3 separate regions of the Homo sapiens genome follow, and regions 1 and 3 are each linked to region 2. The links come from fine-mapping of genetic effects on gene expression. Tissue or cell type: whole blood. Region 2 holds a variant in brackets; each other region holds the start of a gene. All regions are shown on one strand. Distances are between the middles of the regions.

Region 1 (8,110 bases), 100 kb before region 2:
TCAAATATCTATCAAAATACCAATGATACTCATCACAGAAATAGGAAAAATAATCCTAAAATTTATGTGGAACCATAAAAGACCCAGAATAGCAAAAGCCACCCTGAGCAAAAAGAACAAAACTGGAAGAATCACATTACCTACTTCGAATTGTACTACAGAGCTATAGTAACCAAAACCATGCCAGCATGGTACTGGCATAAAAAAAAATAGACCAATGGAACAGAGTAGAGAAGCCAGAAACAAATCCATTAATCTGCAGTGAATTCATTTTTGAAAAAGGTGCCAAGAACACACACTGGGGAAAGGACAGTCTCTTTAATAAAAATAGTTCTGGGACAACATTACATTCATATGCAAAAGAATGAAACTAGACCCCTAACTCTTGTTGTATACAAAAATCAAATCAAAATAGATGAAAGACTTATACTGAAGACCTCAAGCTAGGAAACCATTAAAAGAAAACACTGGGGGCCAAATAGATGTGGTGGCTCATACCTGTAATCCCAGCACTTTGGGAGGCGGAGATGGGCGGATCACTTGAGGTCAGGAGTTCAAGACCAGCCTGGCCAACATAGTGAAACCTCGTCTCTACTAAAAACACAAAAATTAGCCAGGCATGGTGGCAGGCACCTGTAATCCCAGCTACTCGAGAGGCAGAGGTAAGAGATTTGCTTGAGCCTGGGAGGTGGAGGTTGCAGTGAGCCAAGATCACGCCACTGCACTCCACCCTGGGTGACAGACCAAGACTCAGTCTCAAACAAACAAACAAACAAAAACAAGAAAACATTGAAACATTGGGGAAAGTCTCAAGGATATTGGTCTGGGCAAAGATTTCTAGAGTAATACCCCATAAGCACAGGCAACCAAAGCAAAAATGGACAAATGGGATCACATCAAGTTAAAAATCTTCTGCACAGCAAAAGAAACAACTAAGTGAAGAGACAACCCACAGAATAAGAGAAAAAAATTGCAAATTATCCATCTGACAAGGGATTAATAACCATAATATATAACGAGCTCAAATAGCTCTATTAAGAAAAAATATAATGATCCAATTAAAAATGGGCAAAATATCTAAATAGACATTACTCAAAAGAAGACATACAAATAAATAGCAAACAGACATATGAAAAGGTGCTCAATATCATTGATCATTAGAGAAATGCAAATCAGAACTACAATGAGATGTCATCTGACTCCAATTAAAAAAACTAGAGCTACCATATGATCCAGCAATCCCAGTTTTTTATATATTATGGTTATTAATCCCTTGTCAGATGGATAATTTGCAATTTTATTCTCTTATTCTGTGGGTTGTCTCTTCACTTAGTTGTTTCTTTTGCTGTGCAGAAGATTTTTAACTTGATGTGATCCCATTTGTCCATTTTTGCTTTGGTTGCCTGTGCTTATGGGGCATTACTCTAGAAATGCTTGCCCAAACCAATATCCTGGAGAGTTTCCCCAGTGTTTCAATGTTTTCTTGTTTTTGTTTGTTTGTTGGGTATATACCCAAAAGAAAGCAAAAGTATATTGAAGAGATATCTGCACTCCAACGTTTATCACAGCACTATATTATTCACACTAGCCAAAATTTGGAAGCAACCCATGTGTTCATCAAGAGACAAATGGATAAAGAAAATGTGGTACATATACACAATGGACTATTATTCAGTCATAAAAAAGAATGAGATCCTGTCATTTGCACAACATGGATGGAACTGGAGGACATCTGTTAAGTGATATAAGCCAAGCACAGAAAGACAAACTTCTTATGTTCTCACTTATGTGTGGTAAATTAAAATTAAAACAGTTGAATTCATGGAGATAGAGAGTAGAACGGTTTCCCAGAGGCCAAGAAGTGTAGTGCTGGGAGGCTGGCAGGGGCCTGAGGGGCATGGAGGTGGGACAGTTAATGGTAGATATAAAAATATAGTTAGATACGAGTGAATAAGATCTAGTATTCACTGGCACAATGGGGCACCTACAGTCAACAATAATTTATTTTATATTTCAAAACAACAAAAAGATTATAATCGGATTGTTTGTAACACAAAGAAAGGATAAAAGCTTGAGGTGATGGATACCTTATTTACCATGATATGATTATTATTCATTGTATGCCTGTATTAAAATATCTCATATACCCCATAAATATATACACCTACTATGTACCCACCCACAAAAATTTTAAAAAAAATCTCCAGGTTACAGTTGAGGAACCTGGGTTGTAGAGATGTTAGGTAACTTTAATATTGAGGCTGGAAAGAATTTCATCTTGGTTAAAGCTTGTTACTTGTGGCGCTCTTCCTGCATGTCCCCACACCGTGTTTCCCCATGATATATGGTTTGGACTAAGTTAAGAAGCTAGTGCTAAATAAATGCTCCTCATTTCTTCTTTTCAAATGATGAACAAAACTTCTTTTCCAAAAAACAAAAGCTGAAAACAAAACGTGACAGTTCTTTTGTCTCAACTCTTCTTGCTAAGAACCTTTTAAAAGTGACAATCCTATTTTCTCTGTGTCTGAAAAGCATTTTAGAGTAATTCGTAACTTAGAGCAACTATGTAAGCCCCAGAATCCCATTGCCGACTGTGTGTTTTGCCCATAAATCTTCAAATTAGTCAAGCTTTGTCAGTTCAGAGCGGTGCAAAATAAATAATATTAATAAACATGAATCATTTCAAGTCATAGCATAAACCTGAAAATTTCTTCCCCCAAATAGATAATTTTTATACATCCAAAGGTGGAGTCTAATAAGGAAAGTTAGTAATGAAAATTGCTAACACTGAAATCTTGTGCTCATCTCTTTTCAGCAGTGTAAAATAGAATACTTTATCAAAATGGAACTGTCAATAATGTTCAATTTCCTTTAACAACTACACTCTAAATAGATTTAACTGGCTATTTCCTTCACACATTCTCAATGAGAGTATTGATTAGTATGAAAGAAATTGACAAATAATTAGAATCATATCCCCAAACTTCCTATCTATTAATCATAAGGAAACACAGAGGCTTGCTTAGGTCTCCCAGTTTTTTAATGATGACTTTCATTCATGTTTCTCAGAGAAACAAAAGAATATACTTCATATTATTTTGTATGTAACTCCTTTGCATAGCAATTCTCAAATATTAGTATTCATCAATAACCACTTTAAGGTTATATCATTAGAATTGTCTATGTTCTTGTCTTGTTATCAGTAATAAAACCATGAGAAATTCCCATCTAGTATTTCTGATGCTTTAGGGAATACTAAGTAATAGATTTGAAAAAACTTACAAGTGCCCTCTAATTACAAGACAGGATTAAGCTCCATGGAAATACAGCAGTGGAATAAGCTTTTCAACTTAACGGTTTTTTAAATACACTCTTGTTTTCCCATGGAAAGATGTTTAAAAATCATTATGATTCATGATAACCAATTATTTTGTTGTTTTTGGATGAGATTATTTTTATAGATTTATTGAGTTATAACTGACAACACATTAAATTGTTCATATTTACAGTAAACAATAAGTTTTGACATATGTTTGCACCTGTGAAGCTATAACCACAATCTAGATAGTGAATATTTCCATCATGAGACATAATTTTGAGTATGTCAAAAATGTAAAATTTTGGTGACCATCAGATTTCCAGGGATATCTGGCTTCAGGAGGCCATATTTATTGTTTAGTGAATGATTTTTCTCTAATTTATTGTCATCTTTTGAACATTAGTGCACTAGCAGAACAAAAGATTAGGCAGACTCTGGGCTTTTTCATTTTAGCATTATTGAGGAGCACCTGAATGGTCCTGAAGTTGGCCTTTGAATATACCAATGGACAGGTATGAAATCCTCAAGATGCGCATGGTGGCCAAGAGTCCCACAGTCTCACAGTGTGTGCGGTACCGTCTGCGCCCACCTTTCCTAGAGAAGAAACAGCAGAAAAACCTATTCCTTCACCCTGTGTGTTGTGGTGAATCTTAGTTTTTAAAGGCACATTATTTTATTATATAAACAACTTGGGAACCAATAAAACACAAGACATTTGAAAAGATGGGTCTTCGTATGGGCACAACATATGATAAGGCAAGTCACTTTCCTCCTCTGAGTTTGGGTTTATTTGCTGACTATCTTCCATTTTATCACAGTGAACTGTAAAGAAAAAGATGCAAGCTTCATGGAATGTCCAAATTCTGAAATACAACGGACTGCACAGACAGCTTATGATTAGGATGGCCTTGGCTCAGTGTTTCTGAAAGCAAATGTACAGCTTTTGTCCTTGCCTATTGACACCCTGTTTGCCCTCAGGGCTGGTCAGGGTGAGATCTGTTAAGCTTTTTTTGGAGGCTGTCCTGATAACTCATTTCTTTACTCCACTATTTTCAGGCCCATTCTGGAAACGCAGGATTTAACCGCGGGGTTGCAGCTTCCCTGGTCTCCATCTGCCATCAGAACCCATCTCCACCCCTTCCCCGTTCAGACCTGTGTCCCCTCCACAACTCATACTGGTCACTCTCAGAACTGTGGCCCTGAGTTCTCTAGCTTTCCCTCTTTGCCTCGGGACCCAGGACACCAGTCGGGGCTTAACTTTCTCAGTTGGGAAGGCGACGCTGCTGGTGGCTGCTGCTACTTGCTGGTTCTTCCTTTTTTTTCCTCCCCAAACGAGAGGAAGATTCGAGTGGATTTGGCACATCCCCTAACCGGGGCCTGCCATTTGCAGGTTGGGGGCTGACGTGCCCAGGAGGACCCGGACCAAGCAGGCCATTTTCACCTGCGTAATAACAGGATTGGGAATAGCGAAGCAGCGGCGGCAGCAGCGAGTGGAGTAGGAGGAGGAGCGCAGGCAGCGGCCGCGGCGGGGCCGGAGGAAGAGGAGGGGGGAGAAGGAGGAGCTGAAGCGGGAAGAGCGGCAGGCAGCGGCTCGGCGGAGTTGCAGCAGAGGCGGCGGCGACGCTGAGACACCGCAGCTTCCCTGAGCGCCGAGTCCCTCCGGGGACAGCAGCAGGGAGCGCCCGCGCAGCCACCGAGCCTCTGCCCAGCCAAGCCGCCGTCGCCGCGCCGGGGGACCGCCAGCCATGGCCGCGCCGGGGGATCCGCAGGACGAGCTGCTGCCGCTGGCCGGCCCCGGGTCCCAGTGGCTCAGGCACCGGGGGGAGGGGGAGAACGAAGCGGTGACGCCGAAAGGGGCCACGCCGGCGCCGCAGGCTGGGGAGCCCAGCCCGGGGTTGGGCGCCAGGGCCCGGGAAGCGGCGTCGCGGGAAGCCGGCTCGGGCCCCGCCCGGCAGTCGCCCGTTGCCATGGAAACTGCATCCACAGGTAAGGCGGGCGCCGCTGCCCCTCAAATGGCGTCGGGGACCAGGGCCCCCCAGTCAGTCCCCTTCTGCGCGGCTCTCCTGGGCACCTGCCTCGCGCTTTCTGCCTTGAGCGCCGACCCCACCCCCGCGTCGCCACGGGCGACTGGGAATATTCGCGGGCTGGTAGAAAACAACAATTTTATTTTTCCCAAAGGCTCAGAAAAAGTCAAGATGCTTTTGATCCTTTTATTTCATTATCATGATTATTTCCGCTTTAAAAATTGTTCTCATAGGCAAACAGCAGCATTCTGGCTGCTGGCGAGTCTGGGTACAAGTTTCTCCCTCCTGCCAGGAGGCTCCGAGCTGTAGGGCCCGTTTGACAGGTTGTGGGGATTTTGGGGGGCGTGTTTGCGCGCAGTGTGCGCGCCGGCTACAGGAGATGCTGACAACCGAGCGGCGGGCAGGCCCGCGGCCCCTGGACCCGGCTCTGTCCAGGGCAGAGATGTGGCTGTAACTGCCCCTTACCCTTGCCCTCCACGAATCGCCACCACACCTTACTCCCCCCACATCCCTCCGCCTTTTCTCCCGCAGAAAACAAATCCCAGGGAGTTTGTCCCTAATTCGGGAGGCACAGCTTTGCAAGAGGGTTGGGTGCTGTGGCTGCCCCCGCCCAAAACCTGTATTTCGCCGCTGCCCGGATGGCCCCACCTTGCAGGGAGCATTGAAACTTCAAGTCCTAAGTGCGGCGGGCCTGGCTGTGGGTTGGAGGGCTTGGGTGGTGGTGAGTGGACGTGGTACAGTTTACCAGCAGTCTAAGCGCCCCCCCCCCCCCACCCCGGAAATTGCCCTGGGTTTGGCCATTCTTCGCCTGACGCCCTATTCAAAGTCTGAGCGCGCCAGTGTCCAGCGGGAGCCCAGGCCCCTGGCGCATCCTGGTCAAAGGATCCAGGAAGCGCGCTTTGAGGCTGCCGGCCTGGTTAACGCTGTTTCCAGGGAGAGGAAAGGGGATGCTGTGTGGTGCTCTTTCCTGAGAAAGCTTTGCTATGGTGGAGTGGGAGTTGTGTAGTTTTGGCAATGTAGAGCTAGAAGGCCTGGGGTGGGGGGTGCTCCCAGAGGAGGGGAAGGGGAGTGGGACTGGTGTGTGTGCTCTTGGTGGTTGATTTAAAGAAACCCCTTTTCGTAAGCTTCTCTTAAGGGTTATGTGGAATGTCTAAGGTAATCGTAATTAACTGCCCTGGTACAGAAGATCTGAGCTGGGGAAAAGAGGTTTGGAGAATGCGTTGAATAAAAATTGTCAATATCCTGAAAGGAAGAGAAAAAGTGGAGACCCTATATAAGAAAAAAGAAAAAGAAAGAAAGAAAAGTACTCAAAAGCCCCAACGCCAAACGCCAAAGGTTATATATTAATTATTATATCCCTAGGAGTGGGGGAGGATTTAAATCTAAGAATGGCTGCTCAGTCTCTCTTTCAACTTCTGCATCCAAGTGAAAACAAAACTCTTTATAATTGCAAAAGAAGATGGCAAATGATAATAGACAAAGGAAGGTAGTTTTTGTCTTTACCATTCTTTGTTGAGGATAGACTGCTCATAGTTCAGAATCTTTATCCACTGTAATCAAAGTAAATTGTTTCTTTATGAAACATTACCCACCTCCTATTAGTGCCACTAAGATTATGTGAACTAGAAAAAGGAAGCTAAGTGCCCCATGCTCAGTAACATATCCACAAAAGTTATTATATAGGAAATGCTTAGAATATATATTTGTGGGGTACAGTGTGATGTTTTGACATATGTCTGCATTGTCAAATGATTAGCTAACAAATCCATCATCTCATGTACTTTTTTTTTGTGGTAAAAGCGTTTAAAATTTACTCTTTTAGCAATTTCAAAATGTACAGTGCATTGTTACAGAAAGGTGGCTGTAGTAAATAACAATGCATTTTGCATTTTTAGTATTATTATTATAGAAATACCTTGCTTTATTGAATGTGTTTGGGGTTTTCTATCCTAGGCAACAAATATAGTAATAAAATCAAACATGATACTACGTTTGGATGGGAGAAGAATGAAGAAAGATGGAAGGAGCACATATTTTGCATATTTATATAGAAATTTTTTAGTTTATGATTGTGGCTAGAAGGAATTTCTGATATAGTTGTTGATTGGTTAATGTCTTAAATCTCTGTGTTTCTTATTAAGTAGACCGGATGTGCTGCTATAAGAGACTCAAACGCCAGAAATGCTGTATAAATAAATAACTAGATCTTAAAATTCCAAACAAATCTTGTCCAGCTTCCTGGTCTGTTATTTTGGCAGTTCTATTGCTATAAGCAAAGTTAGCAGGTGAGCCCTCAATTGTATCAGAGATGCCTATTAAGCACACTACTTTACACTGTATTTCTTAATTTACTTTTTTTTGGCTTATAAACAGAAATTTATTTTCTCACAGTGCTAGAAGCTGAGAAATCTAAGATCAAGGTAGATTTGGTGTCTGGTCAGGGTCTGCTTCCTGGTCCACACACAGCTGTCTTTTCACTGTGTCCCCACATGGCAGAAGAGTGCTTTATTTTTTTAAAAGAGTGGTGCTTTTTTGGGACTCAACTCAAACTAAGAAGTAACTTAGACTTTGAGTGTGATGCACTGTAAACAGATTTTGTTTCTTTTTTAGATGGAAATATAAGACAGATATTGATGTTTTAATAACTGTTTTTCTGAAAAACATCACCAATCATGCCATCTGGACAGATATTCTGTTATTTATTTTTATACATTGATGGTAATTAAAATTATCCCAGGAACATTTCCAAAAATATGTCTCAGCAGTG
Region 2 (8,110 bases):
GAAAATGACTAGGAAAGTGCTAGAAATGCCCTAAACTTTATTATAATATGACATTAATTGAATCATCTTTATTTCATTGTTAAATTATTAGATATTATTTATACGGATTGATCTCTGCTGCCCTTAATTTAAAACTTCTTATTTCTGGTTGTGAGAGGAACAGTTTAGACTTCAAATGGCTTCTCTTCTTTATTTCAGTTATTAGAGACAACTTTCTGCTGTATGAAAGAGTGATCTTTTTAACAAATCAGATGACCAGTCCACAATTGTTATTGCTTATCTGCAGAATGTATTAAAATGTACATGGAATAGAAGATGTACTTATAAAATACAGAGTGCAGAGTATTTTATTTTTGGTCTGGAGATGTATCATCTTGCTTTTCAGTTCAATTTCTGTTACTATGTGATCTTACTCTCACTATGCCTCAATTTTCTCATCTGTTAAATGGGAATAATTAATAGTACCTGCCTCATGGGGTTGTTGTAAGGATTGAGTGAGCTGATACTTGTAGAGGATTTAGACGGTGTATGACACAGGGTACGCAGTTTATAAGTATTAACTATCACCACCATTATGCAGTGAAGAAAGCTTCCAATAAAGAGGCATTGTGTTCAAAATACTGGGATAGGATTTGTCTAAGCTATAGTAATTCTAGCTCCTACAAAAAAAAAGGTCAAAAATGTATAATTCCTCAAAAAGAATAGAGGCTTATTTCTTACTCTCACATAAAGTCTAGAATTTGTGTTCCTAATTAGCAGGCAGCTGGCCTCAAAAGGTGATTCAGGGACCCAGGGTCCTTTCATGTTTGGGTTCTAGTACCATCTCTAATATGAGATTTTCAAGGTTTTATGGGACAGTGACATTCAGCCAGTAGACAGAAGATGAGAAACGTCTGAGATACTCCCCTCTTAACTCAGTCTAGAGATGGAACTTATCGCCTTTACAAGAGCAGTTTTCATGGCCCCATCTAAGAAGAGAGCTGGGAAATGTACTCCCTAGCTGGACAACTACATCCCGGTAATACCTTATAATGTGGCAGAGTGGCATGAATAGGTGGCTAGGAAGCCATCTCTGCCATAGATGTAAAGGAGGTTTCTGTCTGTTATTGCAACAGTTTTCCCCTGAAATGTTAATTCAGTCAAGCATTATAGAAGTGGTTACTTGGATGTTTTTGCCTCTTCACTTAATGAGAAAAAGACGGTACTTTAATCATCAAGAAATTGTTCAGAAGAGTGAGTTCTGATCATGTGGTCTCCTTGGGGAGATGTTGTGAGTTGGCTGTTGGCTGATTTTACCATACCACTCCTCAGTCTCAACTGTAGTAGTGGTGACTTATTGGGACTAGATTTATCCACACTGTTAATGGTTTATTTAGAAAGGAACATTAAGAATACACATATAAATATGAGATTCCAAATGAAAATTACTTACATTTCATTGGTTTCATGTGTTTTTATTTAAGGCTTTTAGGGAGGAGAAAGCAAATTAAAGAACTGGACTATTTTGAACTGATTTTGATCAGTGTGGAGTGAAATTGCCAAGTAGCTTTCAGACATATTTTTGGCCTGCATTATTTGCCTAATTACTTCAGCTCTCAATTTTGCCCGTGTTGACACAGCTAGAACAGCAGGCAACACAACTGAGACTGCAGAAGTTGAAAGAAACCAACCCTTCAGAGCCAAATTATAATAATCTATAGTGTTGTATAGATTATAAATCATTTTTACACTTTAATTCAGAGTCGAGTCCATGTTCTTACAAATGGAATGCAGAATGTTTTGGGGACAAAAACTCAGCATGTTAAACAGTCAGTTTAGTAAGAGATTCACATTCTTTGCCATAGAAAAATAAAGAGCTGTGCCATCATTAACTCAGCAGTTGCACTGTGTTTTAATTCTGCTACTTAAAGCATCTCTTTCATGTAAGTGGAACTGTCAGTCCACTACAGACACTCTTTACCATAATGTGGATACTTGCCCAAATTTGTAAATCTGGCATTCTATTTCACAAACGTGGATGCAGTTTTATCCTAATTTTTCAATAATGGATAAATAATAAACTCTAATCACATGAAAGAGAGAAAAGAAGGCATATATGAATGAAATGTCCAGATAATCTAAAATATTCCTTTTAGTCACTATGTTTCCCTTTCTGAAAGGGTCAAAAATGAAGAGGATGGGTTGAATATTCATTTCTTTTTCTGTCTCATGTCTTTTTCTTTCATCTTCTCTTGTTTAGGATAATTAATGAGATGATAGAAACCAGGGTAGAAGAAAGACAGTAAGCTTTAAAAAAGCCAAAATAAATCAGCTCTTGAATAATTGAAAAGAGGCAGTGTATCCCATACACTTTTAACATCATGCTCTTTCCCCCATTAAATCTCAGATATAGAGTTATGAGTTGGTAACTCAGGTGGGGAAACTGTCTTTAGGAGATTCTTAACTTGATGGAAAGACTGCATCTGATTCTCAATTATGGAAAATTGAGCTTTCAGAAAATACTTAAAGGCTTAATGGAAATTAGAATATTTGTCATCTGTAAATAAATATTGCTGTGGTTAAAAATAAGTTCTGTCTTTTTTGTGCTGATTTATTTATCAGAAACTAACTTTTTAAAGTCATCAGAAGATATGTAATAGACATATAATACTTCTTCATTTATTCTTGGAACCACAATAGTGAATTACATGACATAGTACTATCTTCAGTTTTTTCCTTATTAGACTTAATAAGATAATATTTTCACTATAACAAGAAATAAATGATGAGAATTTTTTTTCTAATGTAACTAACTGGGCACGGTAATACTTCATAACTAATGAGTTCAAATAGCCTTTGAAATATGTCTCATAGATTTAGATTTTACTATCTTTGGGGTTCTTAGATGACAAGCTACTTCAAATAAAATATTTAATGAACTACTTTAAGATAAGGAATTATATCCTTAATTAACAAGTTTGCCATTATATTAATTTATAGCAAACCATCTGAAATTAATTGCTCCGCAGTTTTACTGTAGCTTTGTTCATTAGAGACAGAATGCAGCATAAGCCAGGCATAATTTGAACCTCATCTAAAAGAATGCAAAGAATGATGGACAGTAGGATGCTATTATCAGGCTGGGCCATTTACCTGGAGTTCATTCACAGGGATTAGAGACACAGCCACAGGATTTTAGAAGTATTACATCATTTAATTTTTTCTAAGCTCTAAATTTCCCACCTCTAAAATGGCCAAAAAAAAACCCAGTCCTTTTTTGACTAGTCATGATTTTATTAATGGGTTGCCTAAAGTGTTTGTTTGAAAATCTTAGATGCTAAACAATAAAGGACAAAGACTATGAGCCTCGTTCATCTTGGGGAATGAGTGTTTTCTACAGCCCAGGCTCTCCCTAAGGCAGAAAAGCAGTACCCTAAAAGACATGCATCATAGTTTTATGATTTAGCATCATTTTAGCTAAGGAATCAGCCAGGAGCAATAATTTCCTTTTACTGTATTTCCACTGTTTTTTTTTTTTTAATATTGGGGAGAAAGAGGAAGGAATTGGGCTGTCACGTAACTTAA[T/A]CCGGAAAGATGTAAACTGTTGTTTTGACCTTCTTTTGCTTCCTCTGTAGCACTCAAATTACCTAATAGCATGCTGAGCACACTAAAGGCAGTTAAATGTACTTGCACATGAATTGAACAATGGAATTGGAATATAATTAGAACATTTGTAAAGAAAAGTGACTAAGAAGTAGAAAAAAAATCTATGGGAGATAACATAATACATTCAAATTTAAAATCATTTCAGGATCTTTCTAAAAGATGTATAAACAACATGTTGATTAATATCCTTTTGTTTTTTAAAAGCCAATTACATTATATAAAAACAAACAGATTTTTAAAATATTCTGTAGACAGAACACCAGTTGATTAACTAAAAACTTTATTTTTCAGTCAGTAGCATGTATTCTCAGTCTCCAGATATAAAAAGTTATTTCAGTGCTATTGTCTTCAGATGTTCTATTTGTTCAGCTTTTATTAACCTTTTTAGTGTACATATTATCAGAAGTAATTACAAAAGGCACTAGCAATAAATAATGAATAGTATAGTGGAGTCTAAAATAAAATGGTTATTTTACAATTTAAATGCAGATATTTCTTCTTACTGCGTATCTAATTGTCTAATAACTCTTAAAAGCACAATGCAAAATGGCATGAATCCATACATGAGTAATTCTTCTGGGAATGCTGTCTCATATCCACAGGAAGCATAATTGGGATGACATAAAAGCCTTCTATTTACTGATAAGGATAATTGAACATGAAGCACTTCTGTGAGGATTTCACCATATGGGAGGAGTTACTCCATTCCACAGCTTATTTGAAATTTATGGTGGATACAGCCTCGGTGAAAGAATATCTTTATGACTTCCAGCAGCCATTTGGCATTTATTATGAAGTATTTTCATGGCTGAAGATACAGTTTTCTGTTGCTAATGTGCCTCACACATTGCCATGTGTATGAGGGATGTGGGAGTTTAATAAATAATATTTGATGATAAGACTTAATTTAGGCATGGCATTTTATGGAAGCTTATGATTCACATACCTCTGTGGTACTCACAGATGCACTTGAGTTTTGGTTCTGTAAAAGTTAAGAAGCCAAGTTGACACCTTAAAAAGCAACACCTGCACTTCTTGCACACAGTTCAGACTTATGGGTTTACCAGCAACTCTGCTTATTCTTAGTCAACCCATTGGGTTAGAAGTCAGCTGATGACCCCTGTTGAGGCCTGAGATTTCATTTGATTCCATGGCCACAGGTAGCTTCTTGGTCTGATCTAACTGTTTTGCAAATATGAGATCAAAATATCTACTGGGAGTGAAAATATAAATGGGCCCTCACAAGTCCATCATGGCTACAGAGAGGTAATACAGATCATGTTCAAAATACAGATCATGTTGATGAGGGATGACTTTGATATAGAAAGGAAAGCTCATGCCATTACAGAATTTTTTTTTTTTTTTTGAGACGGAGTCTCACTCTGTCGCCCAGGCTGGAGTGCAGTGGCGCCATATCGGCTCACTGCAACTCTGCCTCTTGGGTTCAAGCAATTCTCTGCCTCAGCCTCCTTTATAGCTGGGATTGCAGACACCGGCCACCATGCCTGGCTAATTTTTTTGTATTTTTAGTAGAGATGGGGTTTCACCATCTTGGCTAGGTTGGTATTGACCTCGTGATCCACCTGCCTCGGCCTCCCAAAGTGCTGGGATTACAGGCATGAGCCATTGCGCCCGGCCAACAGAATTCTTAAATAAAGTATTTAAGGTTAGTAAAGCCTTCAGGGAAATGAGCCTGGTTTGAAAAATCTAAATGTTTATTTTCATTTTTGAATACCTGTAATTAATTTGATCAATATTAATTCCAATGAATTTCTGGGTTTTGAAAATAAACAATGCAAAAATACGTATACACATAAATACATATATAAAGCTTTACCATAACATTAAGGTTCTTAATGATAAATTCTGGGAAAGGACCACAGAAATGAGTAGAGTTCTGAGAATACTGAACTGGCCTTACTGCAAATCTGATGCATTTCCAAAGTCCAAATTTCTAAACAAAATGAAATCATGCATTAGTCTTTGAAATCCTAAGTTCTATGTTCTTTTTTTTTTTTTTTTTTTTTTTTTTGAGGCAGAGTTTCACTCTTGTTCCCCAGGCTGGAGTGCAATGGTGCAATCTCGGCTCACTGCAACCTCTACCTCCCAGGTTCAAGCGATTCTCCTGCTTCAGCCTCCCAAGTAGCTGGGATTACAGGCGTGCAGCACCATGCCCAGCTAATTTTTGTATTTTTAGTAGATACGGGGTTTCGCCATGTTGACCAGGCTGGTCTCAAACTCCTGGCTTCAGGTCATCTGCCCACCTCGGCCTCCCAAAGTGCTGGGATTACAGGCATGAGCCACCACGCCTGGCCCCTAAGTTCTATGTTCTTTTTGGCTTTGGGTTTATTTATTTTATTATGTTCCCATATGTAGTGTCAACTATACGTGACAGTCCTGGTTTTCTTCAGAGTCAGACTTCCCATGGCTTTGCTCATTCCATGTTCTCTGCCTGGGAAAGGTAGGGTTCCTTATCTCCTTTTGCCATTCTATCCATCCATAAAACACCAGTTCCTCTGGGAAATTCTTCCTTGTCCCACAAGTAAGAAAAGACACTCCCTCACTTGTATTCTCACAGCACTTTCTCCTTCCTGTATCTTTTGTTCATTGTCTTTCATCACAGCTGTCGACAATGTACTGTAAACTCCTGGAGGGCAGCAGACTGCCTTACTCACCTTGCAATCAAGGTGAGTTGATGTTGTCAGGAATTGGGTAGACTGTTACGTGATAAAGGCAAAGAGAAATAACCCTTTTTATCTTAATTCTGTTTCAGTTTACTCTTAATGCAAAACAAAATCTGCATGGCAGGTCTTATAAGACTATTTCAGTTTTCTACTTTCTCAGATTCTTCTGCTGTGGGTCTGGTTTTACAAGGAGCAGCGTTTGCTCCTTCAGGGTTTCCAACATAGTTCTCAGGATTTATTCTGGAATTCTAGAGGCAAAACAACTCATTGCTGGGGAAAGTATCCATGAAAAATATATGTCATTTATTATGAGGCTTAGTGGTAAATGTTTTTATATTCATATTGTGTAACTAGCACTTTAAGCCTCAGAAATGCTTGCTATGCATTGATACTTTATTCAGGTGCCAAACCAAAAAGCATCTCTCTCAAAGTGCATATGCTAATAGTATCTTGAAAAGTACCCTAACAGAAATTGCAATGCAGAATAACATGACCTCATGTAAAAGACTTTCTATCATACTTTTCAGTTAACATTTACTAGATGCCCTAGAGAGAACTTTCATTCTTTTTAGTAATGAACACTTTTTTAAAAATCAAGCAGTATAACATAATGATTAAGAGCAACTGCTTTAGAATTCAATGACGTAGTCTTGAATTCTTCTTCAGCTACTTATAGGATGACTAACTCATCCTACTTTGTCCAGGATACTCCCAGTTTAAGCACTGAAAGTCCTACATCCTACAGAATCCTTTGGTCCTGGGCAACCTGAGGTGATTGGTCACCTAGAAAAGTAATACCTTGTTCAAGTCTCTGACTTTTCTCTAATTCTCAATTTCCTCAACTACAAAATGGGAATAATATTGCCTGTCTTATAGGGTCATTTTAAAGATTAAATGAGTTAACTCATATACTCTGCTATTAGCAGAGTGCTTAGCATATAGAAATGTTAAATAAATGTAGCTATTGTCATCCTTAGTATTAGCCAGTATAATTTTTTTTTAACAGCGAGACACATGGAGTTAAATAAAACGAAAAGAACAGAACCATATTAGCATGTTAGTGGCAAGATTCTAATAAGGTTATCCCAGGGCTAAGCCTCCCCTCTTTCCAACCCTGAGTCATTGATAGGGTAGAAACTGGAGTGGGGAGTGAAGGTGCAGAGGACGTTTAGCCTTCTACACACAATCCAGGGCTCTGTGGTAGCAACGACCAGATCAAGAGCCAGGATGCATTCAACATTCTAGGAGTAGAGTCACACCCCAGTTACCTCCAGTTGCCTGGCCCAAACAAGGGCAGAGAAGAGTATCTAAATCCTGATTTCGGTCACTGGATCATTACCACATCCTTAGAAGAGCTATCTTAAAAGATAACAAATTCCTGTCTTTGTGTTGCCAAAGAAAAGTCTATAACCAGATAATGTCATTTATAGGGAATTTTTTAAAAAACACTTATCAAGTTGTACTTTGTAAATGTGCTCATTCAATAAAATGTATTGAACTCTTATTAAGTGCTAGGTACTGTGCTAGGAATACAGAGATAATAGGACCATTCTTTCCCTCAAGTATCTCCCAATTTCAATCATATCAATTAGTAAATAAGTGGAAATTCTAAAGTAGACATTTGGTAATGCCATAAGAATTATGAAAACAAGCCAAACCTAATAACAATATAACAAACTTGATAGTTTTCAGTGTTGTTATTTAACTTCATTCATCTAATATATCAAGTAGTCACTGACAGATAGTGTGACTATAATGCAAGGTAAACCAGTGTTCAGTAC
Region 3 (8,110 bases), 390 kb before region 2:
CACACACTCATCATTTCTGCAGCATTCTGCTGGTTACAGTGATCAACCCTGATACAACCTGGGAGGGAAATACATGGTGGTTTGCACACAGGAGGTGAGCATTGTTGGATCCATCTGGGGGATTTCTGGCCATCCCTCTATGTGGAGAGAACAGTATGTACAAGGCCTTGAGGTGGGCTGGTATTCCAGAAAGCCTTAACTGATTAACTCTACTCACCTCTGCTGAAAAGTTGACTGTTACTTGGTGCAATGGTTTTTTTTTTTTTTTTTTTTTTTTTTTTGGTTTCTTTTGTTTGTTTGTTTTGTTTTTTTAAGACAGGGTCTTGCTCTGTTGCCCAGGCTGGAGTGCAGTGACACCATCAGTCTCGGCTCACTGCAACTTCTGCCTTCCAGGCAGTCTCAAGCAATCCTCCCACTTCAGCCTCGGTGCAATGTATGTTAACATATCATCTGTCACATCTTCCAAAATTTGAGTCCCAGGTTCTCCAAAACTTCAATGGGTTAGTTAGACTAACCACTTTCAATGCCTAAGTGTTCTAATATGTCAAGTTCTCCTCTGACCTTATGCTTTGGTTTATGAAGAGTGAAATTATGAGGAGTGTCAGCATGTTTGCAAGCCAATGGGATGGAGTATGATTTAAGAAGCAAGAAAGAATTTTGTTTTTCTTAAATCTGAGACCATAAATTTCTGTTCACTCTGCTTATCTCCAAGGCTGGTCCTGGCTGGAGAGGGGAGAAAAAAGAGAAGGAGAGGAAAAAGCATTGATCAGTTTTAGAATTTTAAGAAAATATTTGCATATTTTAAGAAATTTAACCTAATTTTTTTAACTTTTTACTTTAAAATGATTATAGATTCACAGGAAGTTGCAAAGATGGAACAGACGTGTACTCTGTACCCCGTTCTCCCCACTAGTAAATTTTACATAATTTTAGAACAATAACAGAACCAGGGAATTGGTATTGGCAAAATCCACAGACCTCGTTCAAATTTCACCAGCTTTGCATGTACTCATGTGTGCATGAGTGTTTGAAGTTCTAGATTAGAATAACAACCACCACTACTAAATCATGGACAAGATATATAAAGGGAAGTTTGAAACAGAGCATTTAAGGGAGAGAGAATGAGAGCTATAAACTGCTTATGTTTAAGAGACCCAAGATACTGTGGAAATTGGCTAATCTAAACAAAATATCAATGCACTGATATGGGGAACTGCATGTGGTGAACAGTGCAGTGAGATATTCCTATTGAGGGATCCCATGAGATTACTAAAGGTAAGAAAGTAAGTTATATTTTCTTATAAATAAGACTCTAGGTAAGACCTTGTCTGCCTGAAGAATATCAGAAAACTAGACCATGACCTGAACGCTTGTAGCTGGGGTACAGCCAGGCAGGTGTAAGCCAGAGCTTGTGGAGGGAGGCTGCTAATAGATTGCAGAGCTCCTCTCCACCGTGGCCAGGTTGCAGGATTTCTGAGTAAGGGTGCTGTGAGCTTTTGGGGCAGGGCAATTCTTTGTTGGGTATGTCTTTACATAGTGCCCAGATCGTTAGCACTCTGATGACACCCTGGCTAGCTGGCACTATGGCCACTGTTCATCCAACACATTTCCAAAAGCATCTAAGGGATGTGAAAACATCCTCAATCAAAAACCACAAACCCCTTATTGTTCTTGAGGAAGAATATTCCCTCCCTAGATTCCTCAGTCCCTGTTTCCACTCACAGTTTCCACTCACTCTTTTTTTCCCCCGCCTAGGGACTGCCGATCTTGGAGGATCTGGATTTTTAAAGTTATTTTTGTATAATGCTTTTGTTATGGAAGATGGCAATTGCTTACGCACAACTGCCTTCATCTTAGCTGACCTGAATGGGCCTTAGCTGCCATGAATGGGCCTTAGCTGCCATGAATGGGCCTGACCCCAGACCATCAAAAGTGACCATTACTAAAAGGAGGGAAGGCAGGGTACCATTCTATTACATCTGGAATTAAAAATGAAGGTTACCAGTTATAGAAAAGACTTTCGGACTTTATTCAAAGCATTTTAATAATACTTAGAGAAGATTGATTTATTAAATGCTAGCAACTCTCATTTTAACATTAACTTCCGAACTTCAAGGAGGTTTTAAAAAATTGAATTTTAATTTTTAATTTTTGTGGGTACACAGTAGGTGTATATATTTATGGAGTACATGAGATACTTTGATACAGGCATACAATGTGTAATAATCACATCATGGTAAATGGGGTATCCACCCCCTCAAGCATTTATCCTTTATGTTACAAACAATCCAATTATACTCTTCTGGTTGTTTTAAAACATACAACTAAATTATTATTGACTATAGGCACCCCATTGCACTATCAAATACTAGGTCTTATTCATTCTTTCTATTTTTTGTATCCGTTAACCATCTCCACGTCCCCCCCAACCCTCCCACTACTCTTCTCAGCCTCTGGTAACTATCCTTCTACTCTCTATCAAGGAGGTTTAAATTTCAAGGAAAGGAGAATTCAATCAACGTGGGCTTATTGCTTCTCATGTCAACACTAAGCTATGTATTCCAGACTCTTCAAAAGAAGCATCAGATTTGCTACTTTATTTCAAGGATTCTAAAGTTCCATTGGAACAATACTATATTAACCCTGAAAATAATTAAAAAACAATTTCAGATATAGTTCAGAAGTAATTGTGAAAAGAGGTGAGATTAGGGAAAGATGACTCTGAGTCCAGATAACCCCAAAAAGCTTTTTAGAGAAGGATGAGGGTGGGGAGGCAGGTAGGGGGTTTATAATAGGATTTAAAAAGAGAAGGAAGAGCTATTTAAGGAAATTTGATTACTGCAAGTAACATTCTTCAAAACATTTAAAGAAAAACAAAAGTTTGGCAGGCAAGACTAGAAAAAGAAAACAACACTGGGGAGGGAAGTCACTGCTTCTTTTATTTCCATGACTGTTTTAAAGTCATATTTAGTTTCAGCCAAGGAAGAGCCTTTGACATCAGAGCACACAAAGTACTCTAGGAAATGAAGAGGATGAAAGTTCTACTGCATCAACGCCCAGAACTTTCTCCATTTGGCCACAGGTCGTTCTCATACATGGCCTAGTTTCTATGCACTCTAACTGGGTCCCTCTGAGGCTTGTGAATGGAAAACCCTCTTGCTTTCAAATGCTTGAAAACAAGAAAGATGCTACTATTGATGCCTCAAATACATGTAGGTATTTAGTGGGAAGCAATTAAATGTTTTGAAGGTCATTTCAAACGGAAATTAATCAAAAACAGTATTTTACTCTTTTGTGTATTAGAGTAGGCAAGACCTTGGTGTTTTCATTACATTCTCTGTTTTTATTTGCTGTTTACATTAGGATGTGAATAATGGCTTGGGTAAGGGGAGGATTTGGTACCAACCTAGGCTTTGGTTGCCAAACAGACACCAGAGTAAATTTGTGTGTGGTCAGAATCAGGTTGTAAGGTGCCAACACAGCACATGGCTTCAGTCTTTTTTTCTCTAATTGTAAAAGGACCTTGTCCCCATGGAGGGACCATTGCCTTGGCTTGTGGGGTCTTGAGTGATAGCCACAGTCTTTCTTCAGCACTTTCTCGACCTCATGAAAAGATACTGAAGCTTGAAAAGGGGATGTTCTTTCTGAATAGGAATGGAGAAGAGGGGCCAAGCAAGAATGATTCTATCTGTCTCCTGGCCGTTGATAGTGTCCCTGTACAGAGAGGAAATAACGTAGTATAATATGTAGCTTATGTTTGAATCAGCTTCTTTAAAAATACTGGAATTTTATTTATTTATTTTTGGTAGACACAGGGTTTCCTCATGTTGCCCAGGCTGGTCTCGGACACTTGAATTCAAGCAATCTGCCGGCCCCGCCGGGTGTGCCGCATGAGGGCGCGGGCCGCCCAAGGACCGCGAGTGGGGCCGCGAGTGCTGAGCCCGGCGCGCCCGAGCCGCTCCTCCTCCCGGCCTGCTCCCTGGGCGGAGCCGGGGCAGTGCGGCTCTGGGCTGGCCGAAGGGGTGGCGCTGCGATCCCGCAGGGCAGCGACGCGACTCTGGTGCGGGCCGTCTTCTTCCCCCCGAGCTGGGCGTGCGCGGCCGCAATGAACTGGGAGCTGCTGCTGTGGCTGCTGGTGCTGTGCGCGCTGCTCCTGCTCTTGGTGCAGCTGCTGCGCTTCCTGAGGGCTGACGGCGACCTGACGCTACTATGGGCCGAGTGGCAGGGACGACGCCCAGGTGAGGACCGGCCAAAGCCTCTCCCGAGTGGGAGGCCGGGCTCGGAGCTGCCGAGGCGTGTCCGGGTCTCCGGGGGTTCTGCAGTGATCCCGGGTCCTTTGTGGGTTGCGTGGAGCTTCCCGAAGGCCCGGCTGCCCCTTACGCAGGGGCTGCGGGTTGGGGAGGAAGAGGCGAGGGCTAAAAAGCCCCTTTGTCTTCTGTACTGGTCGGAAGATGGCATGGACTTGCCATTCAGGCTAGGAAACCTCTCCAGGGAGTGCCAAACTGTTAAGAGAGCACTGGAGTCGGCGGTGCTCCTGAGGACTCTGACATCTTACGCAGGACTCAAGGGATTCTGGTGTTGTCTCAGAGGACGATACTTTGAGAAACAGTGAGCGTCCCCCTGCGTTTGTAAGGGAAACTCCTTTGTAAGTACCGGAAGCCCGGTCGTTCTACTACCTGAAGTAGTCTGTCCTCCACTTCCCACTCCTGCAGTTTTGAAATAAAATCTGAGATAATCCGAAGTCCTTCACCTACTTACTCATTCTAGTCAAACACTAGAAAGAACTAAAAATGGCAGTTTGCTGGAGCGAGATCATTATTGGCATACTGCCTATCTCACTTTATCTGTGTCTTGCTTAATATTTGACATCGTGTACATTTGCTGTATGTTGGCTCAGCGCTTTACACACATAACATTTAACTTTTACAACAACTCTTACAAGGTAGGCATTATTAATCTTATTTTCCAGATAGGGAAACTGATGTTCAGAGAAATTAAATGACCTACCGAAAGCTAGGCTTTGGATCCTTAAGGACTTGGGGAAATGGGGTTTCCCTGGACCAAGTTTCTGGTATAAAAATACTCAAAGCATGTTACAAAGTTTGCTTGGAAGAGATAGTAGCTCGAAAGATAGACTATGTTTGGGGGGGGCGTTATGGGTTGGGCGTTGAGGGGGGTGATATTGATCCCAAGGTGAGAATTGGTTCCTGTGGACAAAAAAAAAAAAAAAAAAAAATCTGGTAATACAGTGGTTTGTGCCCCTCCAAAGCTTAACCCCACCCGAGAAAATATTATTCCTTAGTATTTCATTTTTCTGGTTGGGTTTTCTTGGGTATAGCATGTGCAGCACTGACATTGAGTTCACGAAAAATACACAACATGGACGCCACAGCAGTGCTACAAAACTATGGCAAGTGATTGGGCTTTCTCCTTTTAAAGCAGGAATCCCAAATACTGCACAACTTCATTAACCAAGGGCTTTCTCTTGATCGATTGTTCCACCTCAGCGGGGGAATATGTGTGCCTATTGGCTGCCATTGGCTGCCTTGCAGACGTTGTTTGTGTTTGATCTTTAGTGCTTTTGTGTTCACTTGGACTTGGAGAATTAAACGAAAATAGATTATATTTTATTATTTAATCCTACAAAAAATATTCAACCCATCAAATTATGTCAAGTGCTAAAAAGCAAAATTATTGACAACATCTGAATGAATATCTCTAAGCTACTAAGTTAAAAGTTATTTTCTCATATTAAGGAAAAGTTAAAAGTTAAGATCATTGAAAATTTTAAGAAATTCATTTAATATTTTCAGTTGTGTTTTGTCGGAAAAGAACAGTTTGAAGGATTTTAAATTTAATTACATTGTTATCATTATGTAGTTATATAATTTGCAAATTTGCACATGTAGTTTGATAAATTGCTATTTATCTAAGTAAGTTACATAAAAGTTATTCAGCAAAAATCTGGCGTGGTGGCATGTACCTGCAATCCCAACTACTCTGGAGGCTAAGGTAGGAGGGTCATTTGAGCCCAGGAGTTCAAGACCAGCCTGGGCAGCATAGTGAGACACTGTCTCAAAAACCATAAAAATGTTTTTCAGCAAATACAGTTATAAAGTTAGAAGTTAATAACTTTTAAATTTTAATTTAACATTTAACTTAATTTTAAAATTTAGTCATATGCTTATTTAGTCATATGCTTATTAACTAAGGAGTAAGCTTTTTTTCTTTTTCTTTTTTTTTTTGAGACAGAGTCTCGCTCTGTTGGCCAGGCTGGAGTGCAGTGGTATGATCTTGGCTCACTGCAACCTCTATCTCCTGGGTTCAAGTGATTCTCCTGCTTCAGCCTCCCTAGTAGCTGGGATTACAGGTGCGTGCCACCACGCATGGGTAAGTTTTGTATTTTTAGTAGACCTGGGGTTTCGCCATGTTGGCCAGGCTAGTCTCAAACCCCTGACCTCAGGTGATCCACCCCGCTCTGCCTCCCAAAGTGTTGGGATTACAGGCATTAGCCACTGCGCCTGGCAGGAGTAAACTTTATAGAACTCCTTTTATGTATAAAGCACAGATATATGTACAGTACATAAATGATATACAGTATATCTGTGGAATTAACATTTCACAGGAGAGTTTTAGGGGAAAAAAAAGTCTAAAAAGACTCCTGGTGGAGGTAGGGAGTGAGAAAGAAGAAAAGATTAAAGGAAAATTGAAATAGACTCAGATTCCCAAAACAGCTCAGACTGGAGAGATGGGCAGACTCTATCAAGATGAAAAAAGAAAAAAAAATCCTTCTTGACTTCTCTGTAGGTTTATTATTTTTTGTCACTTAAAAAAATAGCACACTCACATAATACAAAAGTAAAAATACAAAAAGATATATAGTAAAAAGTAAAGAGCTTTCTCTGACCCTTGTGCCCTAGCTACCTAGTGTGCTTCTCTCGAGGCAGCCACCATTTCCTGCCTCCTCTGTATCCGTCTAGAGAAATTCTGTGCATTTCCAAGCATATATCTCACATGGTGATTTTTTTTTTTTTTTAATAGAGAGACAAGGTCTTGCTTTGTCACCCAGCCTGGAGTGCAGTGGCATGATCATAGCTCACTGCAGCCTCGAACTCCTGGGCTCAGGCAATCCTCCCACCTCAGCCTCCCCAGTAGCTAGGACTACAGGTGCAAACCACCACACCTGGATATTTTTAAACTTTTTGTAGAAACAGGCTCTCACTATGTTCCAGGCTGGTCTTGAACTCCTGGCCTCAAGTGATCCTTCCACCTTGGCCTCTCAAAGTGCTAGGATAACAGATGTGAACTGCCAAGCCCAGCCACATATGGTGAAATTTAAGGGTGACTAATTTTAGACATTAAAATGGTCCAGAAAAATCCATGGCACAAGTCTAGAGGAGGAAAAATTTCAACAGCAGCACATGTGAGCAAAACTCAGGTTTTTGTTAACAGTAACCTCAATAGGAGTCAACTGTGAAGTGGCTGCCAGAAAAGATCAGGCAACCTTGGGTTGCATTTGTAGACCTCAGTGTCTGAAGCAACAACTGCAAACAACAGATGTCTCCTGACTAGCTGCTTGTATGTGCCGGCCTCTGTGCTGGGGCACTGGGGACACTGCAGTGACTGAATCAGCCACAGTCCAGGCCCTCATAGACCCTACCTTCTGGGGGACAAGGGAAGTGATTTTTGACATCTCATCCTGCTCTGCACTGTCCAGACCCTACCGAATCCTGTGTCCTGCCCTAGCCAGCTCCCTTTAATAAAGAGGAACATTAACCAACTAGAATTGGTGCAGGTGGGTGTGAGCAGAAGAGTGAGGAAACCTGATACCATGTCATGTGAGGGAAGGTGGCAGAAATTGGATAGGTTTATTTAGCCTTAGAGAAGGTAAGAGATGAAAGGACTTAGGGAAGACATAATGGCTGTCTTCCCTAACAGCTGTGAGGGATTGTCATTTAGAAGACAGGTTTCATTTCTTTTCTTTTCTTCCTGAAACAGCTTTTTGTAAAACAAGAAAGCAGAATTGCAACACAATTTAAATGTCTGTCTAGGTCACAAAAGGGATGCAAAATGTTTGTAATATGATTAGTATGTATTCATATAGTGAGTC

The links. PIP is the estimated chance that this variant, and not a neighbour inherited with it, causes the effect.
Region 1: RTN1 starts here. The variant in region 2 is fine-mapped to the expression of RTN1 in whole blood (TOPMed, PIP above 0.99).
Region 3: DHRS7 starts here. The variant in region 2 is fine-mapped to the expression of DHRS7 in whole blood (TOPMed, PIP above 0.99).

What each region holds. Positions count from the first base shown.
Region 1 is chr14:59,867,585-59,875,694 of GRCh38, reverse strand. It overlaps RTN1 (reticulon 1), which reads left to right and starts at 4,919. Exons shown (of 9, transcript NM_021136.3): 1 at 4,919-5,305. The coding sequence starts at 5,065. RefSeq lists a silencer at 4,911-5,010.
Region 2 is chr14:59,767,946-59,776,055 of GRCh38, reverse strand. The region is part of intron 1 of RTN1 (reticulon 1); the gene reads left to right. Among named protein-coding and RNA genes, the nearest start is that of RTN1, 99 kb to the left of the region's middle. The variant T/A (reference allele first, on the strand shown) is at 3,565.
Region 3 is chr14:60,161,305-60,169,414 of GRCh38, reverse strand. DHRS7 (dehydrogenase/reductase 7) reads left to right here and starts at 4,017. Exons shown (of 7, transcript NM_016029.4): 1 at 4,017-4,238. The coding sequence starts at 4,106. It also overlaps the pseudogene SCOCP1. RefSeq lists a silencer at 3,784-4,053 and enhancers at 4,254-4,303, 4,494-4,553.